3 linked regions of the Homo sapiens genome follow. The protein of the gene in region 2 interacts with the protein of the main gene of each other region in a pairwise test. Each region holds a gene or a part of one and is shown on either strand. Other genes may lie near its edges.

Region 1 (7,034 bases), on a different chromosome or scaffold from region 2:
TTATTCTCTAGAGACCAACAGCTAGGGCTTAGTGTTTATCTGATGAGTTTTAGTTTATGCATTCAGTTTTGCTCCAGGATATAAATAGTGAAATGTTGAATTAAGTTATGGAGTGGTGTGAAATTCAGCATGCTAAGGCAATCAAACAGAAGTCTTCTGAGCCATTTGAGAAGCAGCTTGATGTCCTTGTTCTTAGAACAGGGCTGTCCAATCTTTAGACTTTCTTGGGCCACATTGGAAGAAGGCCATACATAAAATACACTAACCCTAATGATAGCTGATGCACTAAAAAATAAAATTGCAAAAAAATCTCATAACGTTTTAAGAAAGTTTACAAATTTGTGTTGGGCTGCATTCAAAGCTGACCTGGGCTGGGGCCATGAGTTGGACAAGCTTGTTCTAGAATATTTTCGGCAAATTTTGGTAAGGGGGAAAATAAGTAATAGTAATAATAGTAGTAAATAGTAATAATTGCTGTCAAAGCAGCTACCATTTATCGAGTTCTAGTAACTGTGAGGCACCATGCCAACTACTTACATATTATTTCACCCAATTTTCCGAACATCCTGTCAAGTAGGTGGTGGGAATTTTCGTTTTATAGATCAGGCTTGGAAACGTGACTTGTCCGATTGAGTCAGGATCTGAACATAGGTCTTTTAACTCTAAAGCTTATACCCAAACACTGGGTTCTGTGAAATTTCAAAAGCATATGATAGGCTGACTGCAGTGGCTCATACCTGTAATCCCAGAACTTTGGGAGGCTGAGATGGAAGAATCCCTTGAGCCCAGGAGTTCGAGACCAGCTTGGGCAACATAGTGAAACCTCGTCTCTACAAAAACAAAACAAAATGTGATCAAAATCATACTTCATGATTTTTGGTTTCTAAAGATACTCTCTAAATTTCTCTCCCCAATTTAAAAACGAAAGCAGAGCACTGTTGGAAGGTTCAAATAGGTAGATTAATTTAGGTTGGTTTTTTTGTTTTGGTATAGTTGAAGATAATTCAGGTTATTGTTTACATGTTTACATTTATCAAAATAATACATGTACATAGATTGAAAGACCAAATAGGCTGAGCGTGGTGGCTCAAGCTTTTGGAGGCCAGCACTTTTGGAGGCTGAGGCGGGTGGATCCCCTGAGGTCAGGAGTTTGAGACCAGCCTGACCAACGTGGTAAAATCCCGTCTGTACTAAAAGTACAAAAATCAGCTGTGCGTGGTGGTGGGCGCCTGTAATCCCAGCTACTTGGGAGGCTGAGGCAGGAGAATCGCTTGAACCTGGAAGGCGATGGGTGCAGTGAGCCAAGATCGCGCCACTATACTCCAGCCTGGGCAACAAGAGCGAAACTCTGTCTCAAAACAAACAAACAAAAAAAACAACCAAATAGTGCTTTAAACCTTAGAATAAAAAAAAATATATCAATCTCTTGTCCACCCCCTTTTTAAACTATAGACAACTATTTTCACCTTTTTTTGGCACTTTTTAAAATAGTATTTTGGCTGGGTGTGGTGGCTCACACCTGTAATTCCAGCACTTTGGGATGCCAAGGCAAGTGGATCATGAGGTCAGGAGATCGAGACCATCCTGGCTGACACGGTGAAACCCTGTCTCTACTAAAAATACAAAAAAATTACCTGGGTGTGGTGGCGGTTGCCTGTAGTCCCAGCTATTCGGGAGGCTGAGGCAGGAGAATGGCATGAACCTGGGAGGTGGAGGTTGCAGAGAGCTGAGATCGCGCCACTGCCCTCCAGCCTGGGTGACAGAGTGAGACTCCGTCTCAAAAAAAAAAAATAGTATTTTATCTTTGTGGATATGGTAAAATTGCTATTGATTTACATGTAATCTTTTGACTTTTGATCATAGAAGACTTTTGCTGCCTTGTAAAACTCTTCAATCCACCAGTGAGTCAAAAACTTGTAGGAAATTTGTCAGTTACTTTTTTTCCTCCCCTGTAGTACTCGGTCCTGCTCCAGTCTGGACTGTTTTTTTTTTTTTTTTTCCTCCCCAGTCCTTCTGCACAGCTGCCTTTCTGGGAATTTCCTCCCCTGCCAGTTGAAGACCGAATCCTACTCTGTCGCCCAGGCTGGAGTGCAGTGACATGATCATTCATGGCTTACTGTGCTTCTACCTTCTGGGCTCAAGCGATCTTCCTACCTCAGTCTCCCGAGTAGGTGGGACTACAGGCGTGCACCACTATGTGCAGCTAACTTCTTATTTTTTTGTTGAGAATGTCTCACTGTGTTGCTGGGTTGGTCTCAAACTCCTGGGCTGAAGCGATTCTCCCACCTTGGCTTCCCAAAGTGTTGGGATTATGCTCAAGAGCCACCATGCCTGGCCTTGATTAATGATTTGACTGGGTGTGGAATTCTGGCTTGGAAATAATTTTCCGTTAGCATTTTGAAGGTATTGCTCTAGATGTCCTGTGTCTTGCTGATTGTTGATCCTTTATATATGCTTTTTTCTTTGGGAAGTTTTTAGGTTCTCTTCTTTGTCCTTGATGTTATGAAATTTCAGTCATCCTACCTATGGAGAATCTTTTAAAATTCATCATGCTGGACAGTCATTGGATCTTTTGAATCTAGAAATGTGTTATCCTGTTGCAGGAAATGGTTTTATAGTATTATTTCTCTGCTCTTTTCTCTGTGGTTTATTTATGAAATTCTCCTATAAGCAGAATTTTTTTTTTTGAGACGGAGTCTCGCTGTGATGCCCAGGCTGGAATGCAGTGGTGGGATCTCAGCTCACTGCAACCTCCGTCTCCCGGGTTCAAGTGATTCTCCTGCCTCAGCCTGCTCAGTAGCTGGGACTACAAGTGCGTGCCACCATGCCTGGCTAATTTTTGTATTTTTAGTAGAGATGGGGTTTCACCATACTGGCCAGGCTCGTCTTGAACTCCTGACCCCAAGTGATCTACCCACCTCAGCCTCCCAAAGTGCTGTGATTAACAGGTATGAGCCACTGTGCCCAGCCAGCAGAATATTTTATATTCCAGGCTCATCCTCTAATTTTTTTCCATCTCTTGGTCTTTTTTTTTTTTTTTTTTAGCTCTTCATTTCAGAGAGATTTCTTCCATCTTGATCTTTCCAACTCTTGTATTGAATTTTTAATTTTGGTTATTATTTTTAATTGAGAGCTCTGAATATTTCTTTTTATTCTTGTTTTTTTTTTTTTTGAGATGGAGTCTCACTCCAGTCACCCAGGCTGGAGTGCAGTGGCACTATCTCGGCTCACTGCAAGCTCCGCCTCCCGGGTTCACGCCATTCTCCTGCCTCAGCCTCCTGAGTAGCTGGGACTACAGGAGCCTGCCACCACGCCCAACTAATTTTTGTATTTTTAGTAGAGACGGGGTTTCACCATGTTGGCCAGGCTGGTCTCGAACTCCTGACCTCAAGTGATCTACTCTCCTCGGCCTCCTAAAGTGTTGGGATTATAGGCGTGAGCCACTGTGGCCAGCTGTAAAGTAATATTTTTAAAGTTTTCTTTTGTACCCAGCATTGTCTCTGATTCTTGAGGTTTTTTTCTTGAAAATTTTATTTTCTTTAATCTCTATCTTTTATGGTCTAGATTTTTCTCCAGTGTCTGATTGTGGTACTGTGAAATGTTTATTTTGTCTTTGACCTCATTTCCTGCCTTACAACTCCTATTTAATACAATCCTTAAAAATCTCCAAAATGATGTCTTTTTGTATGCTAATGATTGATTGATGGCCTGCAGACTCCCTTCAGGATGGGAGCTGGTCATCTGAAACACCTATGCGACTTTAGAGGGTTGGAACTTTCATGTCTGCCCCCCAACCTTCCAGGAAGGAGAGAGGGGTTCAAGGTGATGTTGATCACCAGTGGCTGTTGGTTTAATCAATCATGCTAATGTAATGAGGCCTCCATAAAAACCCAAAAGGATTGGGTTTGGGGAGCCTCCAGAATAGCCGAACACCTGGAGGTTCCTGGAGGGAGGGTGGTGTGCCTGGAGAGGCCTGAACACTAACACCTTGCCCTATACATCTCTTCATCTGTGTCCTTTGTAATACCCTTTATAATAAACTGGTAAATATAAGTCATTGTTTACCTGAATTTTGTGAGCTGCTCTAGCAAATTAATCAAACACAGGGAGATGGGGGAATTCTAATAGACCTAAAGAAAGAAACTAAAGCAAAAATTACTATAAATAGAGAGTTTATTTAGGCCAGATTTGAGGACAGCAACCTGGGAAGCATAGATTCAAGTTGCTCTGAATATATGCTTTGAGTAGCAACAGTTAGAAGTGGGATTTTAAAGGGCAAAAATAGGGGCAGTTTCTAAGTTGAACATAAACTATTGGTTGGCTGTATATTGTTCTTTGTACCACACATTCCAGGAACATGAAGAAAATGATTGAGGGTCACATTGTGTAACTTGTAGTAACAGTCTTGGTAATTTATCAGCTTGTCTGGAAACTACAGGAAAGGGAAGATTAAAAAAACCCCAAGTCCCTTTAAACAGTTAACCCTGAGCGTGGCTGGGGCTGTGGTAACTAAAGACCCATTTTCTAAATTTTGCCGGCTTTATGTTCTTCAGATTGCTCTGAGCTACTTTTCTTTCTCACTGACTTAAAGCTAGTTGATCACATGTTCCAGAGGCCCTGACTTGTGGCTGGTGTCTGAAGGGTGGGCAGTCTTGTGGGACTGAGCCCTCAACCTGTGGGATCTGATGCTATCTCCAGGTAGATAGTGTGACAGTTGAATTGCAGGACACCTAGTTGGTGTTCGCTGAAGAATTTTTTTTTTTTTTTGAGACCGGGTCTCACTCCTGCCCAGGTTGGAATGTAGTGGTGTGATCACGGCTCACTGCAACCTCCCCATCCCAGGCTCAAGTGGTCCTCTTACCTCAGCCCCCCAGTAGCTGGGACTACAGGTGTGTGCCACCATGCCCCGCTGATTTTTGTATGGATGAGGTTTCACCATGTTGCCTAGGCTAGTCTCAAACTCCTGAGCTCAAGTGGTCCCCTGACCTTCTCCTCCTAAAATGTTGGGATTACAGATGCGCAACACTGTGCATGGGCCTGCTGCATAATTGATTTCTTGCTTGGTATGTGGGGAGAAACCCTCACACATTTGGTCACAGAAGTCTTCTATGTTGATTGTTGTGACGTGAGAGCAGAGGAAAAACAGTATTTTTTTCTACTCAGACTGATGATACTTGCTCTGTATTCCTATTTAAGAGAGGTACTGAAAAGCTGATTGGAAGTCTGTGTGTTTGCTTCAAGTCTGTCTCTTGGTGAGCTTCTCTGGAGGGTGTTAGGCAAAGTTTGGCTTTTTCATTACAGAACACCCAGTTGTCAGTATCAGTGAGCCTTTCCTCTTGGGACTATGCCTTTGCTCTGAGCTAGAGTCTGAGAAGTAAGGAAGAAGATGGAGAATTTGACTTTCACGGACTATATTCTTCTAAGTGTGGCCTGCGACTTTAAGCTGTGTGTAGTGTGGCCACGCCCAGTCTCCAGAGGCATCATCTTCAGGATCAGGGAGGGTCCCTGTCTGCTTGGGTAGGGTGCCTAGTGACCCCTTTGAAGACTTTCCATTAATTCTTCTGATTTCTCCCCACCTCTAGAATTCTCTCTTACCCCCAATTTCTGAGTCTGTTTTTATGTGGCAGGAGTTGGCTTGCTGTGTTTTGGCTTCTGTTAGCACATAACAAAGTAGAGGTGGCCATATTTTATGTTAGTTGACACTTGTCTGTTTGTCTTAGAACTTTCAAAATGTTGTGTCTCGTCTGCTTTTGTCTGCTGCTGTTCTCTGTGGATTTATGCCTTGTTTTCTCCTTAACTCTCATTTTAGTTGCATTTCAGGAGGGAGTGGCCCAGGCTGGAGTGCAGTGGCGTGATCTCAGCTCACTGCAAGCTCCGCCTCCTGGGTTCGCACCATTCTCCTGCCTCAGCCTCCCGAGTAGCTGGGACTACAGGCGCCCGCCCCCACGCCCGGCTAATTTTTGTATTTTTAGTAGAGACGGGGTTTCATCGTGTTAGCCAGGATGGTCTCCATCTCCTGACCTCGTGATCCACCCTCCTCAGCCTCCCAAAGTGCTGGGATTACAGGCGTGAGCCATGGCCCATCCCTGCCCTGGAGACATTTTGCCCATTGTCTTGGTGATTAACATTGGACTTCTTGTTACTTATGCAAATTTCTGCAGCAGGCTTGAATTTCTCCCCAGAAAATGGGTTTTTCTTTTCTGTTGCATCATCAGTTGGCAAATTTTCCAAACTTTTATGCTCTGCTTCTTCTTGAAGGCTTTGCTGCTTAGAAATTTCTTTTACTAGATACCCTAAATCATCTCTCTCAAGTTCAAACTTCCACAGATCTCTAGGACAGGGACAAAATACCACCAGTCTCTTTACATAACAATAGTGACCTTTACTCCAGTTCCCAACTAGTTCCTCATCTCCATCTGAGACCAGTGCAGCCTGGACCTTATTGTCCATATCACTATCAGCATTTTGGTCAAAGCCACTCAGCAAGTCTCTAGGAAGTTCCAAACTTTCCCACATCTTTCTGTCTTCTTCTGAGCCCTCCAAACTGTTCCAACCTCTGCCTTTTACCTGTTTCCAAAGTTGCTTCCACATTTTCAGTTATCTTTTCAGTAGCATTCCGCTGTACTGGTACCAGTTTACTGTATTAGTCTGTTCTCACGCTGCTAATAAAGATATACCCAAGACTGGGTGATTTATAAAGGAAGGAGGTTTAGTTGACTCACAGTTCCACATGGCTGGGGAGTTCTCACAATCATGGTGGAAGGCAAATGAGGAACAAAGTCATGTCTTACATGGTGGCAGGCAAGAGAACTTGTGCGGGGAACTCCCATTTATAAAACTGTCAGATCTTGTGAGACTTATTCACTACCATGAGAACAGTATGGGGGAAACTGTCCCCATGATTCAGTTATCTCCACCTGGCCTCACTGTTGACATGTGGGGATTATTACAATTCAAGGTGAGATTTGGGTAGGAATAAAGCCAAACCATTATCAGAAAGTATGTCTTTTTTTTTTTTTTTTTTTTTTTTTTTT
Region 2 (7,034 bases):
GGGTGGGCGCAGGGATGCAGGCCTGAGGGGCAGGAGCCAGCCCAGCCCCCGCCAAGCACTTTGACCTGTAGCAAGAGATTTGCAAAAAACAAAGGCTGGGAAAAAATGCTCCCGAAATGAGAGTGCTTGTGTTTTGATGATGGAAGTATGTATAGTTTTAGTTTTTTTCAGTTCCCATTTTTCTTTTCTTTTCTCTTTTCTTTTCTTTCTCTCTTTCTCCTTCTTTCTTTTTTTTTTTTTTTTTTTTTTTTGAATCAGAGTCTCACTCTGTCACCCAGGCTGGAGTGCAGTGGTGCAATCTTGGCTCCCTGAGACCTCCGCGTCCTGGGTTCAAGTGATTCTCGTGCCTCAGCGTCCCGAGTAGCTGGGATTTCAGGCGCGTGCCACCATGCCCGGCTAATTTTTGTATTTTTAGTAGAGACAGGGTTTCACCATGTTGGTCGGGCTGGTCTCAAACTTCTGACCTCAAGTGATCTGCCCACCTCGGCCTCCCAAAGTGCTGAGAGTACAGTCTTGGGCCACCGTGCCTGGCCCCCATTTTTCTTTAGTAAGCATGCATTACTTTACAACAGCGAGAAGGGAAAGGAGCAATTAGAGTGGCCTTACAAATTGTCAAGCCTTTGGTTGCAGTTATCAGGGCTGTCTCCAATGACCTTTGGTTAAAAAAGGTAGATGGGACCAGGGGCAGCACAGGGATTCCTCTCCTCTATTAGAAGTTGGTGTTCAGAGAGGAATACTGGGGATAGTTAGATTTGAGTACTGACAAGTTCATCCCGGCATTGTTTGTGTGTCTATAACTGGCAACATTCTAAAGCTCAGTGACAGTGGGCAATCTCAGTTGTGGCCTCTCTGTCCCTGCAGTGGGAAACAGGCCACCAGTAACTGCCCAGGTGGATGCATGTGGCTTCATGGCCAGCAGCCCAGGAAGAAGGTGCGTGGTAGCATCCACTGAGAAACATAGGGACAGACGGACGGTTTGAGCCCATTTTAGTTAATATTTATAATAAAATATAAGGGAGCAAGTTCAAACTCCCGTGCTGATCAGTAGTGGCATTGTCCCTGTGAATAGCTACTGTGTAGCAGCCTGGGTAATACCATGAGACCCTATCTCTTAAAAACAAGAAAAGAAAAAATACAAGGAATATATTATTTATATTTAATTATTATATTATATAAAAGCTTAGGACAACCCTGTCTTTTGCATATGGTGACTTTGCCTTAAATAAAGATAGTGAATCATTTCTGTTAGGAATCATAGAAATATGCAGCCATTTTCCGGAAGCATACACAGTGGAGGTGGAATGATACGTGATTTTTATCTTCTTTCTAATTCCTTTTTGGGTTGTCAGATTTGTGTTTTATAAGGACACACATTGCTTCTATAAGTAGAATTTATAAAGCCAGTTTCATTTTGAGAAAAAAATATTTTAGATTAAGCATTCCCTTTCCCCAGTTTGGTGGTACCTGAGCCATAGTCTCCCTGGTGTGACCCCACAGGGGTCCAAGTCACAGGAGTCGCCATGAGGGAGGGGCCTTCTGGGTACACACACATTTGGGATTTGAAAGTAATTGTGTTTTACAAGTAGTTTTGAAATCTTCCTTTGAAATACTGCATCATACAATGTGCATTTCCTGTTTCTGGCCAGTGTGGCTTTGTTCTGTACAGTGATGTTATTACAATTACCAGTTTGCATTGTCCCTCTACAGGAAGAACGCCTCAGGCGGGGTGATGACCTCAGATTACAGATGGCCCTGGAAGAAAGCCGAAGGGACACAGTTAAAATTCCAAAAAAGAAAGAGGTAAGAGCTTGCTGGGAGGGTAGATGTTTCACCCTGTCCTGTAGTTGTTGCCTCAATATCCCCCCACCAACTTGCCTGGATGGCGTGATGCACAGTGAGTTCTCCAACCTCAGCAAATAACCTTCATGCCTGTAGTGAGCGAGAGCCAGGTGAGCAAGCGACTGAAAACACACCTGAACTAACCAGGAGACACTTAATGTCCCAGTGCCTCAGTCTGCTCGTTTGTAAAATGGAGGTGATGATAGTGCCTGCCTCCTGCCGCTGTGGCTACGGCAGCTGTCAAGTGAGCTACATGCCAGGGGCTGCGGAACGCTTTCCTGCAGCAGGGTGTGCCCCCAGAAGTGCTGGTTGCCTCTTCAGCCCTGTGCCAGGCTTCCTGCTGTGATGTAGAGATGACCAGGACATGGCTGGGCTCTTGACAAGCTCATCATCATCCAGTCAAGACCCAGACCCCTTCTACACCACAGGCCCCGGGGCTCCATTGGCCTCCTCTGTTACAGTGCTACTGAGGCCGGTGGAGCCCCTGGCTCCTGACTGGTTGATGTTGATGATCCCTGATGACACATGGGGTGGTCTTGAGAGTGGGGAGCATGCAGGTGCCCGAGGAGGAGGGCCCTCAGGCTGGCCCTGGATGGTGGCTGGCAGGTGGGAGGGATGGCGTTCTGGAGGAGGTCCACAGCCTGGGCAGAAGCCAGTGTTAGCCTGGAAAAGTCTGTTGAGCCCTGAGGTCTCTGAAGTCTGGTGAGGGGGTTTAGCAAACAGTAAATAGCTTGTTGTGACTGGAGAGCTGGCTGGACGGGGAGGGAGATGGGACGGCTCAGTTTCCAAGTTCTTCTCAGCCCCTCCTAGAGGGCTTCACTGGAGGAAGAGGCACAGGTGGGTGATATTTATGGCTAGTTCATGAGTATTTGCTGTAACTGTAGCATAGTAAAACCTGTCCCCTTCTCTTTGTCTTAAAAGCATGGCTCTCTCCCACAGCAGACTACGCTGTTGGATTTAATGGATGCTCTCCCCAGCTCGGGCCCCGCGGCCCAGAAAGCAGAGCCCTGGGGCCCGTCAGCCTCCACTAACCAGACCAACCCCTGGGGCGGGCCAGCGGCTCCTGCGAGTACTTCAGACCCCTGGCCATCGTTTGGTAAAGACCCCATTACTGGTCTCCCGTGCTTGCCTGCTGGATGGGTGAGGGGCAGGGCAGTGCTTCTTGCTGTCTCTCACCCACTTGGGTCTGGTCGATTGTGGTGGGTGTCCAGGCTCCTCCAGCCCTCAGCAGTGATATCCAACTGGCCCTTGCCCTCCTCCTTGAGGATGGTGGCATGGTGTTCCCTCTTTGTTTTGAGTGGTTTTCTGCTTTGGGAGAAGGAAAGTCAACCTCCCCTCAACCTCCCATTTGCATCAGAAATGGCTTGTGCCTTCTCTGGGACATGTTTCAACTCTTGCAGCCTCAGCGTTACACCCAGCGTCCCAGCTGAAGGAACCAAAATACACAGCATGGAACATCCAAATCAAGCTGCTGTAATTAGATGGAAATTATGATGTGCTTACCACCACTGCTGATGAAAAGGGGATACATTTGCTATAATTCTGCTTGTTACTTAAAGCAATAGAAAATCCGTTTAATAGGCTAAATGAATATTTTAAAGTTTTGCTTAATGTGAGATGTAAGAGGAATTGTGGTGGGAAGTTCAAAATGTGAGCATGACACAACTGGTTTGATTTGGGTGATGATCTTGGGCCCACGAGTTTCTTAATCACTGGGCAGGAGCATGGCCCAGCAGGCTTTATGAAGGCTTCCTGGCCTGGTGCCCTGGGAGGCCCCTCCTGGTGTGCTAAACCCTACTGGGCGTGGCTGACCTGTGGGCTGTTTGGGAACTTTGTATATCTTGTGGCATCTTGCCTGTATCTCCTGGAGTCTCTGTTTCTCTCAGAACCGTCTCTTGTGTTTAACTCGGTTCCCTAGATGTTTGCTAAAATGTACCAAGTGACAGGCTGTGTTCTGCTGTGCATGACCCCTGAGACAACAGGTGATTATTGTCCCTGTTGTCTGTTGTCAAGGCCCTGCTCAGGAGCGGGCAGGGCAGGAACACAGCGTAATAGCAGTACTGTGTAGTCCAGGACTCGATGGAGGTTATTTGAGAGCATCCTGGGATGAGATGAGACTCAGTACAGGAGTCCAGGAGTGTGAGGTAAGCATTTTGGAGGAAGGCCACTTCCGTTGAGTCCCCAGGGAAAAGAAGGTGTCCAGGCACCAAGAGGCAGGGAGTTCCCTGCAGAAGACTCAGCGTGTGAGAAGCAGAGGGGTACGGAGTGGTGGAGTGGGTGCAGATGCAACCAGCTGGTGTGAACTGGGAAGCAGGGGAGAAGGGCCCAGATCACTCAGGGCCTGCACTCAGCCTTACCAAGTGCTTGGACTTGGTCCAGAAGACACTGTCAGCCCCCGATGCCCTTTAGCATCTGGTGAGTTCCAATAGCTTGATGGTGGCCTCTGTAACCCAGGCAGGGCCTTATACCCCCTTTGGCAGGAGCCCTCTGGGCCTTGGGAAAAGCCCCAGGCAAAATTGCCCACAGCTTTCATTGACTGAAGGCCAGTTCCAGGGCTGCTCAAGAGGTTGGTTCACAAGGTTTGTCACTTGTGTGTGGTACCCCCAGGGAGCCTGTGGTATGGTTTTACTCACCACACATGGGGACTGTGGTGCCCCAGGGCTGGCAGACCCTTTTAGACAGTGGCTTTGGCTTTATTTTTAAATCTGAAGAATGATTAGTCTGTAAAGTGATGGCCACCATAAGTTATGGTTAGGATGTTTTCAGGAAAGACTGTTCATTAAACTGTCGGATAGTTGTCTTAGTGCCCTGTAAAGAAAGTGGTCACACCAGGAGCCAGGTGGGTTTAATAGAGTTAAATTCTGGGGAGGGAATTGGGGATCAGAGTGGTGGGAAGGAGACTTAGTTTTAACACTTTACCTTTTTATATTGTTTGGCTTGTTTACCAGGGGTAAGTTTTTCCCAGTCAGGAGAGACAAAAATCTCAAAATATCTTTAAATGACCAAGTTATGCCCAGCCCCTCCTTTGGCTGGTGAACAGGGCTGTGCCCTGGACCCAGTGTTCTGGGCCGAGCCAAGGACCTGACCTGACCCTCTAGGAACATAGCGTAATAGCAATACCATGTTGAGAGCACCCTGGGGTGAGACTCGGTACAGGAGTCCAGGGGGTGTGAGCGGAGGAGTCTCCCCTGATGAATGGGGGCAACTTGGTGGGCTTGATGGGCTGCTGCTTCACCTAGGAATGCTGCCCATGTGAATCTGCCCTCCCAAATTTTAAGAACTTGAGATAAAATTCACCATTTCAACTTTTTTTTTTCTTTTTTTTGAGACAGTCTCACTATTGCCCAGGCTGGAGTGCAGTGGCACCATCTTAGCTCATTGCAACCTTCGCCTCCCAGGTTCAAGCAATTCTCCTGCTTCATCCTCCTGAGTAGCTGGGATTACAGGCTTGTGCCACCACACCAACTAGTTTTTTATTTTTAGTAGAGACGGGGTTTCACCATGTTGGCTGGGCTGGTCTCAAACTCCTGACCTTAAGTGATCCGCTTGCCTCGGCCTCCCAAAGTGTTGGGATTACAGGCATGAGGCACCGCTCCTGGCCCATTTCAACCATTTTAAAGCGGACACTTCACTGGTTTTCAGCACATTCACAATGTTGTGCAGCCACCATCAGATATCTAATTCCAGAACATTTCCATCACCCCAGAAAGAAACCGCATACCCAGGCCCTGGCAACCAGTATGTGCTTTCTATCTCCAGGGATTTGCCTCTCTGGACATTTCATAGAAACGGAGTCATGCACTGTGTGGACTTTTGTGCCTGGCTTATTTTGTTTAGCATCATGTTTTCAAGGTTCATCAATGTTATAGCGTGTGTCAGTCCTTCATGACTTTCTGTGGATGAATAATATTCCATTGCATGGATATACAACACTTCGTTTAACCATTCAGCAATTGATGGATATTTGGGCTGTTTTCACATTTTGGCTATTATGAATCCAGTTTTTTAAAGAGAAGATAGAAACCTGGATTTTTGAAATCTAGTGTTTAAATGTTGGCTGTGAATTTTAAAAATTAAGAATATGGTTTGAGCTAATTAAAAGCTATCTGAGGATGGGCACATGTGGCTTGTTGACTGCCAGTTGGCCATCTCTTGCCACTTGCCCAGCCTAGGACCTTCTTGGTTCTGATGCACTTGGCATTATTACCAGTGACTTGGGGAGGAGATAGGCCACCAAAGCCCATAGACATTGTTAATAGGTTTGGGACAGGCTCAGTGCTTATGGCACCATGTCCTGTAGTTGTCACACCATCCTGGACTGCTGCAAGGCCCTTCTGTGGCCCTGGCATGTCCTGGAAAAGTCACCACAAATTCCAATATGGAGAGATAGCCACTGTTAAAATGTTAGCTTGTCTGCTTCCTGTCTTTTTTCTGGGCATTATGTTTTTACTCAGTTGAAGCTATATTGTATATATAATTACGTGTGTATGTATGTGTATATTTCAATTTGTAGTGTCATGAGCATTTCTAGGCATCATTAGAAATTCTAAACAATACCACGCTGTACCATCATTTACTAAGCAGCCTAGTGATGTTCATAGGGGTGTTTTTGCAGTTCTGGCACTCTGCTTTCAATAGAAAAATACATTAAAATCACAGTGATTTCTTTTAATTCTGAGATTCTTTTCTCAGTGGTGGTGTTGACCAGCTCTGCAGGAGAATGGCCCTCTGCTAGCTCCTGCATTCACTGAAGCGTGTTAGCACACCCTCTGCTTCCACATTCCATCAGCGTAGCCTCAGAGCAAGAGTGTGGTATTGGATTTATTGTTTAGCATCTAGTTAAATCCAATAGTGCAAATTTTCAGGGTCACCCCTCCATCCTGAGACTCATTCATAAATTAGAAAGATTGGAGTCCCTTCCCCTAACAGTGTTAGCTGTGCCCTCTGGATGAAAGAAACACTGTTTTGAAAGCCACCATTTGTAGTGAGCCCCATCATTACCAGTTTTTTCCAAGCAGCACTAGGAGCAACTTGGCCAAGTGGCCTTGGGAGGAAATGCTCAGGGTTGAAAGGAGGGAGATTGGAGCCTGCCAGGTCAGTGGGGCGCTTCCTCCTCTGTTCCAGACACACAAAGCAGCCACCTGGTCTGAGGAGGGCTTATAGCCTGCTGATTCAGAAGACCTTGGCTGGCTGGA
Region 3 (7,034 bases), on a different chromosome or scaffold from region 2:
AATTGGCAGCAGTAAGGATTATCATCTCCATGTTTCAGATGACAAAACTGAGCCCCCAAGTCTTCTAAGGTCCTGCAAGTGAATGGCAGGGCTGGGACCCACCGTCCTGGTCCCTGGCGCCCTGCCCAGGGACGGCCTCTCACCTGCATGAGCTCTGCAGCTGGCTGCTGCGCCTTGCCCTCCAGTTCGGAGATGACCAGGGCCAGCCGGGCAAGCTCCCCGACGCCCCGGCTCTTGAACTTCTCCCTGCCCTCCGTGAGCTCCTGCTCCAGCTTCGCCAGCTGTTCCAGCAGGTGTTCCTCCCGCTCCCTCAGGAACTGATGACCCTGCTCAAACTCAGCCACAATGTACTGCCTCTGGTCCTGGAGCTTCTTCTGCAGGGGGCAGGAAGGGGAGAAGGGCTGACACCTCTGCTCAGGGTGGAGGGCCCAGTGCTGGAGGTGTGCAAGGCTGGCTCGTTCACCTCGCTACCCCCGTTCAGGAATTCTACAGGATCTGGAGTGGGAGGAGCTACAGAGGGTTCCTGGTCCACACTCCGCTTCTCAAAGAAGACTCCAGTAATGAATTAGTTCAGTTCACCCCACCACTATATGGTCAAAACCCTGTCTCCACCTGACTGGTCAGCCACAATCTGTTCTAGCTAAACCAGTACGCTCTGGGGCCCCTAGAGAAACTCTGTGGGTCTCACTCATGAGCCGACGCACTTTTCCCTCCTGGACAAAATCTGTCACCTCTTCCAGGAAGTTTTGCTTGATTAATGTCATCTAAGCCTGACCAGCCCTCTCTTCAGCACCCCACTGTTCAGTCTAAAATATCTATATGTACCCCACCCCTGCCATGTAAGACTGCATCCTGTTTCCTCAGCAAAATTGTGTGACGTCTGTGCTTAGGGACTATGTCCTTTCCTGCCTCCAAATCTCCTCCCCAGCTGGGGTTGGGGGAGTCCTCAGTGGCCCTGTTGACTGGTGCTGAGCTGGGGGCAGCCATGCACACTGAGGGCCTGGAGGGGTCCTTGGACTTGGCTGTCTCTAGCTTACTGTTTCCCTCTCCCTAGGCCTAATGACTCACCACTGGCCCTGACCCCACTACTCCTCCACTGCCCACTTCCTCAACATACACAGTTCCCCAGAAAATCAGAACCATTTGATCAGTTCCCCCCAACCCCATCTCTAATCAAGTACATAATGTGCTGCCTGTTTTCTAACTACAGTTGTCCCTTGGTATCAGTGGGTGATGGGTTCCAGGATCTCCCTCCCCAAGGATACCAAAATCCAAGGATGCTCAAGTTCTTATGTAAAATGGAATAATAGTTACATAAAATCTACTATATACTTTAAATTATCACTAGATTACTTATAATGCCTAATATAATGTAAATGCTATATAAATAGCTGTTACACTGAATTGTTTAGAGAATAATGACAAGAAAAAAAATCTGTACATGTTCAGTAGAGACGCTTTTTCTTTTTTCTGAATATTTCTGATCCATGGTTGGGTAAATTCGCCGCTACGGAACCCACAGATATGGAGGAGGTCCCACTGTACTGGCAACCATGATCCTGGGCCTGGACCTCACTACATACAGTGCCATCAGAATTGGCAGACCTGCCTTAGCTGTTTTCTAGCCCTTCCCTCTCAGTTCTTACCCTGGAGCCAGCTCCCTCCTTCTAAACCCTCTCCACTCTCAGGCAACCTTGTCTCTCTCTCTCTCTTTGAAAGGAAGAATGAAGCCACACCTTCTTCAGTCCCCTGGCAGAAGAGAACCAGCAGCTGGACATGGGCCCTGCCTTCAAGGTGACAGTCACAGAAAACGGAAGGGACTCTAGCTGACATCCAGGCAGCCCACTTGTCTCTCAGACAAGAAACAGGCCCAAGACTACACGGCTCAGAAAGACAGCACTTGGGCTAAAACCCAGGTCTGCTACTGCCAGGCTGACACCCATCCTCCCTGTGAGCAGCGCCTAGAAACACCTCCCAGCTGCCGCCTACTTGCCCAGGCTCACCCTGCCCTACACGGGCGCACCGCCTCAGGGCTTCCTGAAACAGCCTCACTTACCAGCGCGGCCAGGATATCAGCTTCTCCCTTTGCCTGGAAGCCCTGAATTTTGTCTCTGTCCCTCCTTAGGGTACTCAGGTGGTTCAGGATTTTTTCCTGTGGAAAAACAAGCAGTGGCAACAGGTGGATGCTCTGGGCTGGGGCAGGAAGGGAGACTCAGGCTGAGTCCTCTGAGGACTGCAAGGTGGAGCATCCAGAGAAGGTGGCAAGGCACCCTCGGGGGTGAAGAGGGCTTACCCTGTGGGGCTGGGCGGCCTTCTCCATGAGGACGGCCGTGTGGGGCCTGTGCTCCCGGGACTCCCGGCACATCACGCACAGCAGCTTCCCGTCGTCCTCACAGTAGTAGTGCAGCTTCTCTCGGTGTCGCTCGCACAACTTTGCATCCTGCTGCTCCCGGGTCACCTCTCCCGGCTGCCTGCCCTTGTCCACCTTCAGCCGCTCAATGTTCTCCACCAGGCTGGCCAGTTGCCACACGGGTCGGATGTTCTCCTTCTTAAAAGGCTTCTTGCAGAGTGGGCAGACGGGGCGGCTCCCTGAGATGGGGCGGACGTCTGTGGTGCAGCTGCGGCAGAAGACGTGGCCACAGTCAATGGTCACAGGGTCCCGCAGGTAATCAAGACAGATGGAGCAGGTCACCTCCTCTTCCAGGCTCCGTAGTGGGGCTGACGTGGCCATGGTATCCTTAGTTCAGAGAGGTCTCCGTTCACTGGTGAGGACTTCTTCTCCTTGGAGACGCGACATAGAGTCAGGAGCAAGCACAGTAAAGGGGCAAAGGTGGCAGCCTGCACAGGGCTGCCAGCTCCAGCACTCAGTCAATCGACAGACACCACCAGCTCCTACAAGGTTCACACAATGTCAACGAGAAGAGGACCTTATAGATCTAGTCCAACTTCCTCATTGTACAGATAAGGATATGGAAACCCAGAAAGATTAGCTTGGTAGAGTGAAGAGCAGGACAGCCACTAGCCTATACCTTGCTGTTGGGAGAGCCTCAACACCCTTTCCTTCTATCTGTTGGAAAATCGCTGTAATGCACCAACTGTAATAAAAAATCTCTCACTACCTGCTGGGAAACTCATAATGATACACATATAAATCTACAATGTCTACTGTGGACACAGTGCTCCTTCACTCAACTGTGCAAAGCACAAGACACACGAGCAGTCATGGGGGTCCTGACAGAGTCAAGAGACCGCCCGTTTTTTTTTTTTGGTTTTTTTTTTTTTGAGATGGAGTCTTACTCTGTCGCCCAGGCTGGAGTGCAGTGGCGTGATCTCAGCTCACTGCAACCTCCGCCTCCCAGGTTCACACCATTCTCCTGCCTCAGCCTCCCGAGTAGCTGGGACTACAGGCACCCACCACCACACCTGGCTAATTTTTTGTATTTTTAGTAGAGACGGGGTTTCACCGTGTTAGCCAGGATGGTCTTGATCTCCCGACCTCGTGATCCACCTGCCTCGGCCTCCCAAAGTGCTGGGATTACAGGCGTGAGCCACTGCACCTGGCCAAGAGACCCCTTTTGTTTGCTCCTCAAGGTTTCAGGTTTCAAGAACTAAGAGAGGGCAATGTGACATGGCTCACCCTGTAAATCCAACACTTTGGGTGGCTGAGGCAGGAGGATCACTTGAACCGAGGAGTTTGAAACCAGCCTCAGCAACATAGTGAGACCCTGTCTCAACTAAAAAAATTTAAAAATTTTTTAAAATACCCCAGTGTAGTAGCATGCATCTGTAGTCTCAGCTACTGAGGAGGCTGTGGCAGAAGGATTACTTGAATCTGGGAGGTGGAGGCTACAGTGAGCCATGATTGTACTACTACACTCCAGACTGGGCAACAGAATAAGAGACTGTCTCAAAACAAACAAAAAACCAGAAAACATTAAAAAACAAACAAACAAACAGCACTGAGGTTCTTTACCAAAACTCGAGAAGCATCAGGAAGCTTCAGGAGTCTGACTGTCAGCATTTCCCTTTGTGAGTATTTCCCTGGGCTGTTCTATAGTTTGGGTTTAATTTGCTTCCCCTAGAAGGCTGGACTCTAAACACAGCCCTCCAGAGGAGCACAGCTTAGCCTCAGTGGACTTGTTCTTGGCTGTAACTGCCTCGTCTAGATGGCAGGAATCCTCAGGTGGCTGTGGCTGCTATGTGCTGTGAGGCCTTGGCTTGTACAGGGAGCGGGGACACACAGAAAGGACTCTGCTTCTGTTTACCTTTGTAGTCCTGACCCAGTTCCAGGCTGAGGTTATGAGCCTCAGCACATCTAACCCAAGAGCAGCCTCCTGCCCCTGACTCTGTGTGACAATACAGAAGTCACTTAAGTACTGAGCCTCAGTGTATCCATCTGTAAAATGGGAAGAGTGATACTTACCTTTAAGGGTTTCTAAGCAGGTCATGTGAAAGAATTATGGGAAAAGTGCTAAGCACAAGCCTGGTACACAGACGGAAATCTAGGAGAGAACCCACAACCCCTGGTTTCCAAATCCAGTGAGTGTCCAAACCACAAACAAAGAGTTAAATTCAAAAGTGGCAGCAAAAGAGGAAGTGAGCAGAACCAGCCACAGTGACACACGTGCTACAGAGTTCAACAACATCGTCACAGGGCAGTACCTGGAGGACTTGCTCTCCTATAGATCCATGGAAGGCAACTACAGCAGCGCTGGGAAGACAACCAGCAGGGCACAGAGGTGACTGCGAGGCTGGAATGAAGCAACCTGAATTACAGGCAAATCAATACTATTAATGATTATGTATGGTGAAAGTCCATCACAACAGAGTTCAGTGGCCTCTGTCAGTAGTGACATTAATGGGACAGAAATAAAACCCCCAGTCTATAAGACCCAAGAGTAAACAAAACAGGGATATAACGTCCACTCATTGAGGGTCTAGTACAATAATACATAAAAAGTGTTTTATAACGTAAAAGGACTACATAAATATAAGAGATTCTTATAGTGCTGATAATAAATTCCAACTGGAAGCACTAATGGATCTAGGTATGTGTGACTTTAAGAGACATAATGAGGGGAAAATCAAGCACCTTCAAAGCTCAAATGAAGGATTCAAGGAATTTAACTGTCAAGTGAAAGTAATATCAAGTTCCTACATGTTAGTAATGCTGGTAGAAATGCTAGGAATTGGCCGGGCACGGTGGCTCACACCTGTAATCCCAACACTTTGGGAGGCCGAGGCAGGTGAATCACAATGTCAGGAGATTGAGACCATCCTGGCTAACACGGTGAAACCCCATCTCTACTAAAAATACAAAAATTATCCAGGTGTGGTAGCATGCACCTGTAGTCCCAGCTACTCAGGAGGCTGAGGCAGGAGAATCAATCACCTCAACCCGGGAGGCAGAGGTTGCAGTGAGCCGAGATCGTGCCATTGCACTCCAGCCTGGGTGACAGAGTGAGACTCCATCTCAAAAAAAAAAAAAGAAAGAAATGCTAGGAATTGCCTGGTCCAACTCCTTGGCTTTACTGTTGAGGAAATAAGCCTGGCTCAGCAGTTTTTCAGTTGTAACATACTGCAAGTGTTTGGAAAGAGGAAAAAGGAGTGGTACTGGGCGTGTCTGTGGGCTTTCAAGCCCTTTATCATGCCTCTTTGCCAAATGGCCTAGAAGTTTAAAAGCTGAGGTTTTTCTTTGTTGAAGGATAGCCTGTGTTATCTTTGGGTTGGGAACTTATTTTGCAATTTACTTGCAAAATAAGAACAATAAAAGGACTATGAAGAGCTCAGCTACAGCTCTTCTTCCATGCAAAACAGGACACCTCATCACCCAGGCTCCATGCTGGGGTTTGATGGTCTCTAAACCTCCTGAAACTGTCTAAAAATTATTGCATATGTACTAGATACCTAAAATTGTCTGGGGATTACAGAAGAATAACCTTCTGTAAGATTAATCAGCAAATAAGTAGAAGAGGGATAACAGAATTAGAAAATCATTTTGCGACTGCCATTATAATAGCACAAGGATCATCAATAGATGCTAAAACTATTAGGTGAAAAGTTTTGGGGGATGAGATAGTACCCATGGTGCCAAAGCACCAATGAATGGATTACTTCCTGACATACCTTCATAAGGAAGAGATCCAGTGGTTATCTTAACTAAGTGACCAAATCCAGCGTCATCAGCAGACGGGGCAAAGTGGCATGTGCTTTCTGGCATGGCACTATATGAATCACACAACATTACCTATGAAGTGTTTGTGCCAAAAATGTTTGACTTGAATGAATCTAGTCAAGACTTTAGATCTAACTTCCAGTTTATAAAAAATATAAAGGAAAGGAATACTCTGAAGTATGTTATAACTGAAAAAGTACCGATGGAGGAATTAAACCACACCATAAGGAAAGAACCAGATAAATCCAGAATGCTGGACATTGCACATGGCAACTGGCCTAGTCTTTTAAAAAGTCAATGTCATAAAAAAAAACCTTCGAAAGAACTGCTTTTGATTTTTACAGACTAAAGAGAAATAATAACCAAATGCAATACGTGAACCTTGATTGGATCCTGTAAAAAGAAAAAAAAGGTTATAAAAATAGTCTTGGAACTATTGTGGGAAATTTGTAAGTAGGCTGGGTGTTAGATCATATTAAAAAATTATTTCCTCTCTTTCTTTTTTTTTTTTTTTTTTTTGAGACAGGGTCTTACTCTGTCCCCCAGAGTGCAGTGGAACTATCTGGGCTCACTGCAACCTCGGCCTCCCTGGCTCAAGCAATCTTCTCATCTCAGGCTCCCGAGTTGCTGCAACAACAGGTGCATACTACCACACTTGGCTAATTTTTAAAGGTTTTTGTAGAGAAGAGTTGCCACTATATTGCCCAGGCTGGTCTCAAACTCCTAGGCTCAAGCCATCCTCCCACCTCAGCCTCCCAAAGTGCTGGGATTATAGGCATGAGCAACTGCACCATGTCTAAAATTATTTTCTTAATGGTATTTACTGAGGTTATGTATGAGAATGCCTATACTTCTTATT

What was found.
Region 1: the proteins of EPN2 (region 2) and PLEKHB2 interact in binary tests that used the Homo sapiens proteins (3 or more experiments, as listed by UniProt).
Region 3: the proteins of EPN2 (region 2) and TRIM26 interact in binary tests that used the Homo sapiens proteins (3 or more experiments, as listed by UniProt).

Annotation. Positions count from the first base shown.
Region 1 is NC_000002.12:131,108,336-131,115,369, forward strand, and holds part of PLEKHB2 (pleckstrin homology domain-containing family B member 2), read left to right. Parts: intron 1-7,034. UniProt on the Homo sapiens protein: Involved in retrograde transport of recycling endosomes.
Region 2 is NC_000017.11:19,310,345-19,317,378, forward strand, and holds part of EPN2 (epsin-2), read left to right. Parts: intron 1-1,707; coding exon 1,708-1,800; intron 1,801-2,760; coding exon 2,761-2,935; intron 2,936-7,034. UniProt on the Homo sapiens protein: Plays a role in the formation of clathrin-coated invaginations and endocytosis.
Region 3 is NC_000006.12:30,196,373-30,203,406, forward strand, and holds part of TRIM26 (tripartite motif-containing protein 26), read right to left. Parts: intron 4,767-7,034; 5' UTR 4,663-4,766; intron 2,893-4,662; 5' UTR 2,732-2,892; coding exon 2,294-2,731; intron 2,153-2,293; coding exon 2,057-2,152; intron 375-2,056; coding exon 144-374; intron 1-143.